Regions from separate parts of the Homo sapiens genome. Here region 1 is linked to region 2. Evidence: fine-mapped expression QTL. A gene starts in region 2. The other region holds a variant in brackets. All regions are shown on one strand. Distances are between the middles of the regions.

The links. PIP is the estimated chance that this variant, and not a neighbour inherited with it, causes the effect.
Region 1: its variant is the best candidate, but not a certain one, in a credible set for the expression of SLC44A2 in whole blood (INTERVAL, PIP 0.60).

What each region holds. Positions count from the first base shown.
Region 1 is chr19:10,554,801-10,560,167 of GRCh38, reverse strand. KRI1 (KRI1 homolog) reads left to right here. Exons shown (of 19, transcript NM_023008.5): 10 at 232-358; 11 at 460-555; 12 at 639-809; 13 at 1,929-2,004; 14 at 2,108-2,196; 15 at 2,273-2,399; 16 at 2,486-2,616; 17 at 4,819-4,883; 18 at 4,983-5,081. Among named protein-coding and RNA genes, the nearest start is that of MIR1238, 5.4 kb to the right of the region's middle. The variant T/C (reference allele first, on the strand shown) is at 2,392.
Region 2 is chr19:10,623,316-10,628,682 of GRCh38, reverse strand. It overlaps SLC44A2 (solute carrier family 44 member 2 (CTL2 blood group)), which reads right to left and starts at 3,130. Exons shown (of 22, transcript NM_020428.4): 1 at 3,013-3,130; 2 at 2,382-2,430; 3 at 888-961; 4 at 679-763. The coding sequence starts at 3,049. RefSeq lists an enhancer at 4,091-4,672.

The DNA.
Region 1 (5,367 bases), 69 kb after region 2:
CACAGAGTATAGGCTCTGGAGCCAGGTGGCACTGCCTCAAATCCTGGTTCGGCTTCAAGACTTTCATGCCTCAGTTTCCCCATCTGTAAAATGAGGACAATAGCAGCGTGCACCTTGTAGGGTTCTTGTGAGGATTAAATGAGTTCATACGCTTCGTACCCAGGCGTGCAGGAAAGGGGGGCTCGACCTCACTTGGCTGGCCCCCTGGCATCACCACATCTTGCCCCTCAGGGTCCACGGTCCCCCAGTCCAGCTGGCTGTGGACGACTCCTCAGACGAAGGGGAGCTGTTTCTGAAGAAACAGGAGGACTTTGAACAGAAGTACAATTTCCGTTTCGAGGAGCCGGACTCAGCATCGGTGTGTGGCTGGGGCTGGGGAGGACTCAGCCCCCAGGGTTCAGGCCCAGGGAACCCCACATCATCTCTGCGGCCCTTGTGGGCTTTTCTGATTGCGCCTAGGTCAAGACCTACCCACGCAGCATCGCGTCCTCCGTGCGCCGTAAGGATGAGCGCAGAAAGGAGAAGAGGGAAGAGACTCGGGAGCGAAAGAAGAGGGTGAGTGTGGGGGGTGAGCTGGGGAGGACCCCCCAGCCCTGGAGGAAAGCCCATGCCCTCCCCCTCTCTGCCTGGGCCTGCAGGAGAAAGCAAAGAAGCAGGAAGAGCTCAAGCAGCTGAAGAACCTGAAGAGGAAGGAGATTCTGGCCAAGCTGGAGAAGCTGCGGAAAGTAACAGGCAACGAGATGCTGGGCCTCGAGGAGGGGGACCTTGAAGACGACTTCGACCCTGCCCAGCACGACCAGCTCATGCAGGTGCGGCCCTCATCCCGGCCCAACATGACGCTGAGTTCACACAAACATGGCTCTCACTGGCCACGGTGGCTCACGCCTGTAATCCCAGCACTTTGGGAGGCTAAGGCAGGCAGATCACCTGAGGTCAGGAGTTCGAGATCAGCCTGGCCAACATGGTAAAACCTCATCTCTACTAAAAATACAAAAATTAGCCAGGTGTGGTGGTGTATGCTTGTAATCTCAGCTACTTGAGAGGCTGAGGCAGGAGAATTGCTTGAACCCGGGAGGCAGAGGTTGCAGTAAGCCGAGATCATGCCACTGCATTCCAGCCTGGGCGACAGAGGGAGCCTCTGTTTTAAAAAAAAAAAAAGACCTGGCCGGGTGCAGTGGCTCACACCTGTAATCCCAGCACTTTGGGAGGCCGAGGCAGGCGGATCACGAGGTCAGGAGATTGAGACCATCCTGGCCAACATGGAGAATCCCCATCTCTACTAAAGATACAAAAAATTAGCCAGGGTGTAGTGGCGTGCACCTCTAATCCTAGCTACTCGGGAGGCTGAGGCAGGGAATCGCTTGAACCCGGGAGGTGGAGGTTGTAGTGAGCCAAGATCTCGCCATTGTACTCCAGCATGGGCTACTGGGTGAGACGCTGTCTCAAAAAAAAAAGATCTTAGCCGGGCGTGGTGGCACATGCCTGTAATCCCAGCTATTCCGGAGGCTGAGGCAGGAGAATCGCTTGAAACCGGGAGGCAAGGGTTGCAGTGAGCCGAGATAGTGCCATTGCACTCCTGCTTGGGCAACAAGAGCGAAATTCTGTTTCAAAAAAAAAAAAGACCTGGGGCCTGAGTAGTGCACCAGGTGGTGGGCACCACAGGGGCGAAGGTGGGTAGGACGGCGAAGAACTGTGGATATGTGGAACTGAATGGCGGCCAGTACATCACAGGGTAGACAGCAGGGGAGTTGGCGGAGGATCCTGGACATGCAGGGCCTCCCACCTCAGGAGCTAGGTGCTGGGAGGGCTGTAGGGAGCCCTAGCTGTAGGAGTAAAGTTGCCAAGGAGGGGGTCATTGGCGGCATCGTAGGGGGCTCAGCTCCTATGTCTCGAGTGGGCTCTGGTAACCGCCAGCCCTGACCCTGCAGAAGTGCTTTGGGGACGAGTACTACGGGGCCGTGGAGGAGGAGAAGCCACAATTTGAGGAAGAAGAAGGGCTTGAAGGTGAGATCAGCTGGGGCACTGGGCTGGGGATTGGGGACTGGGGACTGGGACTGAAGCCCAAGGTCCCACCCTGGCCCCACCTGTCTGTTCTCCCTGCATCCAGACGACTGGAACTGGGACACGTGGGACGGGCCTGAGCAGGAGGGAGACTGGAGCCAGCAGGAGCTGCACTGTGAGGACCCCAACTTCAACGTAGGTATCACGGGTTGAGGGAGTCCCAGGGGCCCTGACGGGGGGCTGGTGGGATCTGACCTGTGCGTCCTGGCAGATGGACGCCGACTACGACCCCAGCCAGCCGAGGAAGAAAAAGCGCGAGGCCCCCTTGACGGGCAAGAAGAAGCGCAAGTCGCCCTTCGCCGCGGCCGTGGGGCAGGAGAAGCCCGTGTT[T/C]GAACCCGGTGAGGCCCAGGTGGGCAGGCCGTGGGTAGGCAGGGGGCACCGCGGGGCCTGGCATAGCCCAGCAGCCTGGCTCTGTCTCGAGCAGGGGACAAGACGTTCGAGGAGTACCTGGATGAGTATTACCGGCTGGACTACGAGGACATCATCGACGACCTGCCCTGTCGCTTCAAGTACCGCACAGTGGTGCCCTGTGACTTTGGCCTCAGCACTGAGGAGGTAGGGGCCCCGGGCAGGCAGGGACACTGCAGGGGGCACCAGGTATGCCGAAGGGGTAGAAAGCTGGCCCTGAGTCCCAATCTCTGTTGCTCAGAAATGCCACAACATGGCAGGCTGTTTCTTCATCTTGAAAATGATAATATTCGGTTGGGCGCAGTGGCTCATGCCTGTAATCGCAGCACTTTGGGAGACCGAGGCAAGTGGATCACCTGAGGTCAGGAGTTCGAGACCAGCCTGGCCAACGTGGTGAAACTCCGTCTCTACTAAAAATACAAAAAAATTAGCCAGGCATGGTGGCAGGCGCCTGTAGTCCCAGCTACTTGGGAGGCTGAGGCAGGAGAATCGCTTGAACCCAGGAGGCAGAGGTTGCAATGAGCCGAGATTGCACCACTGCACTCCAGCCTAGGTGACAGAGCGCCAAAAAAAAAAAAAAAGAAATGCTAATAGTCCTAATGACAGTGCTAATAACATTACCTCACCTCAAAGGTAATATTACTACCTTCTACAAGGTGGGGGCTTAAAACAGTGCCTCACCTATGGCACGCCCCGTAAATATTACTTCTTTTTTTTGAGACATAGTCTCGCTCTGTCACCCAGGCTGGAGTGCAGTGGTGCCAACCTCCTGGGCTCAATTGATCCTCCTACCTCAGCCTCCCAAGTAGCTGGGACTACAGGCATGTGCCACCATGCCCAATTAATTTTTTTTAATTAAAAATATTTTTTGTACAGATGATGTTTTACTGTGTTGTGCAGGCTGGTCTCGAACTCCCTGGGCCTAAACAAGCTTCCTGCTTTGGCCTCCCAAAGTGCTGGGATTCTGCGTGTGAGCCACCACACCCAGCCAATATTACTTTTTATTTTTGTTTATTTTTTGATTGGTTGATTGGGACAGTGTCTTGCTCTGTCACCCAGGCCGGCATGCGGTGGTGCAAACTCAGCTCACTGCAAACTCCGCCTCCCAGGTTCAAATGATTCTCCTGCCTTAGCCTCCCAAGTAGCTGGAACTACAGGCATGTGCCATCATGCCCAATTAATTTTTGTATTTTTAGTAGAGATAAGTTTTACCATATTGGCCAGGCTGATCCCAAATTCCTGGCCTCATGTGATCTGCCTGCCTCAGCCTCCCAAAGTGCTGGGATTACAGGTGTGAGCCACCAGGCCCAGCCAATATTATTTTATTCCTGTCAGTATGTATTAGCAGCAGTCTGGCTGGTAAGACTTGGTAGCAGGGCTGGTCACACTGGCTCACACCTGTAATCCCAGTACTCTGGGAGGCTGAAGCAGGAGGATCACTTGAGCCCAGTAGTTCTGAGACTAACCTGAGCAACATAGGGAGATCTAGTCCTAGCTACTTGGGAGGCTGAGGTAGGAGGGTTGCTTGAGTCCAGGAGGTTGAGGCTGCTGTGAGCTGTGAGCCTGCCACTGCACTCCAGCCTGGGTGACATAGTGAGACCCTGTCTCAACAAAAGACTTGGTGTCCTCTGGAACCAGGGGGCCTAGGTGGGTTCAAGCCCTGGCTTGGCTGCTCACCAGCTGAGTCTTTGGACAAATGATTCCCCTATCTGTGCCTCAACTCCCCATCTGTAAAGTGAGACAATAATTGATAGCACCCCAACTTTGGTGACTATGGAAGGAACAGAAATGAGACCAAAGTGTGTGGCACCTGGCAGGCTGTGGGTACCTACTATGCCTGACTGATGACGGCTGAAGGTGCACGACCATTTTCATGGTCAGTAAAAATAGCCGATGTGTACTAAGCTTATACCATCGGCATTCAATCACTTCCTCTTTCTGATGGCCTTCCAGTAGGTTTGGAAACAGGCCTAGAGGCTGGGAATGACAGTTTCATATGTAATTAGGAAGCCTGGTGGTTGGCAGCGACCCCTGCCCGTTCTGAGGCTTTGGGGATGGCCGGGTATGGGTGACAGCTCAAGGGCCCTGAGGCTCAAACTGGAATCAATTCAGCCAACTTCCCAGCCATCTGGCCTAGGGCAAGGATCCGTTCTCTGAGCCTCAGTTACCCCATCTGCTGACCTCTACAAAAATCATTGGCCTCTGTAGAGATCAGCTGTCTCTGGCCATCATGGCAACCCTGCTGGGTGGTAGCGGCATTACCGTTTTGACTAATGACATGACTTAGGCTCAGGGAAGGCCCCGCCTGGGCAATATCACAGCAGGTCCCCACTCTCCCTTCCCACGCAGATCCTCGCTGCTGACGATAAGGAGCTGAACCGGTGGTGCTCCCTAAAGAAGACCTGCATGTACAGGTGATGGGGCGGGGCGCGGCGGGGCCACATGCGCAGGGGGCAGGGCGGGCAGCCTCGGGCACTTCCCAGAGCACCCAACACAGGGGCATCTGTCTGCAGGTCAGAGCAGGAGGAGCTGCGGGACAAGCGGGCGTACAGCCAGAAGGCCCAGAACTCATGGAAAAAGCGGCAGGTCTTCAAGTCACTCTGCCGAGAAGAGTAAGCAGTGCTGGCTGGGGAAGCGTGGGTGGGGAGCCTGTCAGGCCCAGGCTTGAGTCTTGGCTCCGTCAACCTCTTGTTGCATGACTTTGGGAATGCAGCGCCCCCCGCTCTGAGACCTGGGTTCGAATCCTATATGGGCACCAACGTTGTGTGACCTTGGGCAAGTCGCTACCCCTCTCTGGGCCTCTTTCTCATAAGATGGAGATAGAGACGGTTCTGCCTTATCAAGTTGCAGAGGATGAAATGAGTTAATTCTCGTAAAGTGATTAAGATATGGTAAATG
Region 2 (5,367 bases):
TAAAATGTGTGCTGCCAGAGAACAGGATGCTTACTATCTCATTTAGAGCTGTGTGTCCCCAAGGACTAGACTAGTGGCTGAGGGTAGTGGGACGTTTATCAGTACTTGTTTTCTTTTCTTGTTGTTTTGTTGAGACCAGGTCTCGCTCTGTCGTCCAGGCTGGAGTGCAATGGTACAATCATACCTTACTGCAGCCTTGGCCTCCCAGCTCAAGCTATCCTCCCACCTCAGCCTGCTGGGTAGCTGGGACTAGAGGTGTGCCCCACCACGTCCACTTAATTTTTGCTTGTTTGTTTTGAGACAGAGTCTCACTCTGTGCCCCAGGCTAAAGTGCAGTGGCACGATCTCGGCTCATTGCAACTTCTGCCTCCTGTGGTTCAAGTGATTCTCCTGCCTCAGCCTCCTGAGTAGCTGGGATTACAGGCATGTGCCACCATGCCTGGCTAATTTGTGTATTTTTAGTGGAGACGGGGTTTTGCCATGTTGGCCAGGCTGGTCTCGAACTCCTAGCCTAAAGCAATATTCCTGCCTCGGCCTCCCAAAGTGTTGGAATTTCGGGCGTGAGTCACCGCGCCCAGCCTATAAGCACTTGTTAACTGGACTTAGAGAGATGGGGAATGCCTAGAATCTTCTGCCCCCTCTTCCCCAGCCCCACCAGGCCGCAAGGAGTCAACTCACTCGTTTTTTGTGCCCTTCTGCCCGCAGAACTCGCCCCGGCTGTCAGTGGGGTAGATCACCTTTCGAGGGTCTCCATGAGTCCAGGCTGTGGAAAGATCCAGGGATACTGAGACACTGCCACTCCTCAGATCCAGCCCTGTTCCCACTCCAGAGGCCATGGCTGCCTCCGCCTACCCTGCAACTCCAAGTCCTGCTCATTCTCTACTCACCTATGATGCCTACAGCCACGTAGCCCACAATGGCCAGGAGCAGGAACACACAGCATATGATATCCGTGCAGCCCCTGGGGAGCAGAGGGGCAGTGTTTGGAGGAGGCTTGGTGCTGTGTGCACCATGGGCCCATCTGCCCTCTGCAAACACCCTCATCCATGTGTTATTTGGACAAATTTTCCTGAGTCGTTTGAATGCCGTACCAAAGGGCACATGCATTTTAATTTTTATTTCATTTCATTTTTTAATTTTGTGCAACAGAGTCTCACTCCGTCATCCAGGCTGGAGTACAGTGGCATGATCATAGCTCACTACAGCCTCGAACTCCTGGGCTCAAGTGATCCTCCTGCCTCAGCTTCCCAAGTAGTTGAGACTACAGGTGCACACCACCACACATTTTTTTTTTAATTTATATACATTCTGTAGAGACAAGGTCTCGCTATGTTGCCCAAGCTAGACTTTTTTTTTTTTTTTGAGAGGGAATCTCACTCTGTCGCCCAGGCTGGAGTGCAGTGGAACGATCTCAGCTTACTGCAACCTCTACCTCCCAGGTTCAAGCGATTCTCCTGCCTCAGTCTCCCAAGTAGCTGGGATTATAGGTGCCCGCCACCATGCCCAGCTAATTCTTGTATTTTTAGTAGAGACAGGGTTTCACCATGTTAGCCAGGCTGGTCTCGAACTCCTAACCTCAAGTGATCCACCTGCCTTGGCCTCCCAAAGTGCTGGGATTATAGGTGTGAGCCACCGTGCCTGGCTGTATTTTATTTTTTTGTTATTTTTTTTTGAGACAGAGTCTCGCTCTTGTCCTCCAGGCTGGAGTGCAGTGGCGCAATCTCAGCTTACTGCAACCTCCACCTCCCAGATTCAAGCAATTCTCCTGCCTCAGCCTTCTGAGTAGCCTCTGAGTAGTCACAGCTACTGGAGAGGCTGAGACAGAAGACGTGCTTGAACCAGGAGGGGAAGGTTGCAGTGAGCTGAGATTGCACCACTCCAGCCTGGGTGACAGAGTGAGACTCCATCTCAAAAATAAATAAATAAATAAATAAATATAAACATGGTAAAAATTAAGTCCAGGCCAGGTGTGGTAACTCACACCTGTAATCCCAGCACTTTGGGAGGCCAAGGCAGGTGGATCGCTTTGAGCTCACGAGGTCGAGACCAGCATGGGCAACACAGCGAAACATCTCTGCTAAAAGTACAAAAAAAAAAAAAAATTAGCCAGGTGTGGTGGTGCAAGCCTGTAATCCCAGCTACTTGGGAGACTGAGGTGGGAGAATTGCTCGAACCCGGGAGGCGAAGGTTGCAGTGAGCCGAGATTGAGATCGCGCCACGGCACTCCAGCCTGGTGACAGAGCAAGACTCCATCTCAAAAAAAAAAAAAAGTTTCAAATATTTGTCACCAGTTTGTTGGAGAACAGATGGGAGGGGGTGTGAAGAGACAGGGATTGGGGTAGTATTAGCGGGGAGAACCCCCCAAAACCCAGAGCTCTTACCTATTGTAAATGGGTCCTTTGAAAGTGGGATCATACTTCTGTGGCGTTCCTGAAAGTCAAGAAGATTAAGATGGATGGGATTGGAGACCTGAACCAAGACAGGGCTGGGAGAGCCCCCTCCCAAAAGCCCCTAGGGGTGTCTTTGCCTTGGCAAGAATAAAATTCAGAGACCTGTGGAATTTTCTGCCTCACCCACCTCCAGGTGACCACACCCAAGCCCCCAGTTCTGGCAGGCCAGGACAGGGGAGGAAGGAGGGATCACTAACTGTGAACAAACTTATTAACTGGCGGCCACCCACTGGGAAGAGGGCTGAAATGGTGACCACCACGGAACCAGGTGGAGATGGGGAAGATCTGAGGTGGGATAGGGGGAAGGAGGCGCCGGCAGCAGTGCCAGGCAGAGGGGTACAGGGGCAGGTCCTTCGGGTAGGGGAGAGTAAGGAGGGTCGTCTGCGAGGCTGCGGGGGATAAGTGGGGTGAAGGGGCCTGGCTGATGGTGGGGAGGCTCCAGGCGCAGATTTGCAATTGCGCTCCCCCTCCAGCCCCCTTCCCTGCGCCCCATGTTCTCTCAAGGCCCCCTCCGAGGGACCGAGGGGTCGGCCCGGGGCTACGGGCGGGGGTCGCTGCCTACCGTGTTTCCCGTAGTAGTGGGGCCGCTCGTCCCCCATCCCTGCAGGCGACCAGCCCCGGCGGCCGCCCGCGCTCTCTCCCGCGCCCCCTCGACCCTCCCGAGTCTGGAGGGAGGCACTGACCGCGCGACTGGCGGCGGCTCCTCCCAGCACAGCGCCAGGCGGGGCGGCCCAAACCGGTCAGACCGGCCCGAGCTGGGCAGCTGCCCAGACTAAGGGACCCGGGAGGGCGCGGGCGGGGCTGCAGCTGCTCCCGCCACTCACCGGCCGGCCGCATTTAGCCTTCCCCGCCCCCACCCGGGAACCCTGCGGCTTCACCCTGGGAACACCCTGCCACCGGGCGATGCCGCCTAGAACCCCTGGCCACCCTGAAAGGGCGTTTCCGTGGCTTCGTTTTGCAGGTGTGGAAACTGAGGCACTGGGAGGGAAAACGGCCTACTGCCCAAACCCAGACAACCAACTGTGGAATGTTGGTGCTGAAAACTTCTCCAAGCTGTGCAGGAAATTAGTTTTCTTTCTGTCTGCTGCTTTTTTTTTTTGAGACAGGATCTCCCTCTGTTGCCCAGGCTGGAGTGCAGTGGTGCAATCACAGCTCATCGCAGTCTCGACCTCCCTGCCTCAAGCCATCCTCCTGACTAAGCCTCCTGAGTAGCTGGGACTACAGGTGCTCTACTGCACTCGGCTAATTTTTAATTTTTTTTGTAGAGATGGGATGTTGCTATGTTGCCCAGGCTCATCTTTAACTCCTGGACTCGTGGGCTCCTCCCACCGTGGCCCCCCAAAGTGCTGGGATTACCTGCGTGCACTACTGGGCCTGGTCTTAGAACAAGTATTTATTCAGCCCTTAGTGGGTGCAGGCCTTGGGCGGGGCACCGCATACAGTGAGGAACCAGAGAGACCCAATCTCCACCCTTGTGGAGCCCACATCCTCCTGGGTCGCCCTGAATTCAAATGCTCCTTCTGCACCCTCTGAACTAGAGGATACTTAACAAAGGGCTTATCTTCCTTAAGCCTCAGTTTCCTCAACTGCAAAATGAGGCTAAAGTATGAAACCAAAACTGACCTCAAAGAGCAGGCATAGGCCAGGTGCAGTGGCTCATGCCTGTAATCCCAGCACTCTGGGAGGCTGAGGCAGGTCGATCAGGATTTCTAAGCCAGCCTGGCCAACATGGTGAAACCCCTTCTCTACTAAAAATACAAACATTAGCCAGTGTGGTGGCACATGCCTGTAATCCCAGCTACTTGGGAAGCTGAGGCAGGAGAATCGCTTAAACCCAGGAGGTGGAGGTTGCAGTGAGCCAAGATTGCCTCACTGCACTCCAACCTGGGGGACAGAGTGAGACTCTGTCTCCAAAAAGAAAAAGAAAAAAGAAAATAGGCTGGGTGTGGTGGCTAACACCTATAATCCCAGCACTTTGGGAGGCCGAGGTGGGCGGATCATGAGGTCAAGAGATCGAGACCATCCTGGCCAACTTGGTGAAACCCCGTCTGTACTAAAAATACAAAAATTAGCTGGATGTTGTGGTGTGCACCTGTAGTCCCAGCTACTTGGGAGGCTGAGGCAGGAGAATCACTTCAACCCGAGAGGCGGAGGTTGCAATGAGCCGAGATCGTGCCACTGCACTCCAGCCTGGGTGACAGAGCGAGTGTCTCAAAAAATCAATCAATCAATAAATCAAAAATTAGCCGGGTGTGGTGGTTCATGCCTGTAATCCCAGCACTGTGGGAGGCCGAGGCGGGCAGATCACTGAGGTCAGGAGTTCAAGACCAGCCTGGCCAACAAGGCAAAACCCTGTCTGTACTAAAAATACAAAAATTAGCCAGGTGTGGTGGTGGGCACCTGTAATCCCAGCTACTGGGGAGGCTGAAGTAGGAGAATCGTTTGAACCTGGGAGGTAGAGGTTGCAGTGAGCCGAGATTATGCCACTGTACTCCAGCCTGGGCGACAGAGCGAGACTCCGCCTCAAAAAAAAAAAAAAATACAATACAATAAAAATAGAGACAGGATCTCACTGTGTTACCCAGGCTGGGCTCAAACTCCTGGCCTTAAGCAATCCTCCCACCTCAACCTCCCAAAGTGCTGGGATTGCAGGCACGAGTCACCACGCCACAACCTGCCTCTACTTGAATATTTATAGATATTTATAGTGCAGCCAATTATTTGGTTAACATGGCATTATACAGGTGGTGTGGAGGTATCCTCAGCAGGAATATACATTTAGTGCTGGGTGTACACAGACAGCATGAGGTTATACAGTCAGCGTGATCATATACATTTGGTGTCCAATAATTGTAGCTGCTGCCTTAGACTCTAGGACTCGCAGGCAGGGCTCTGGTCACTAACTCAACTTATCCTT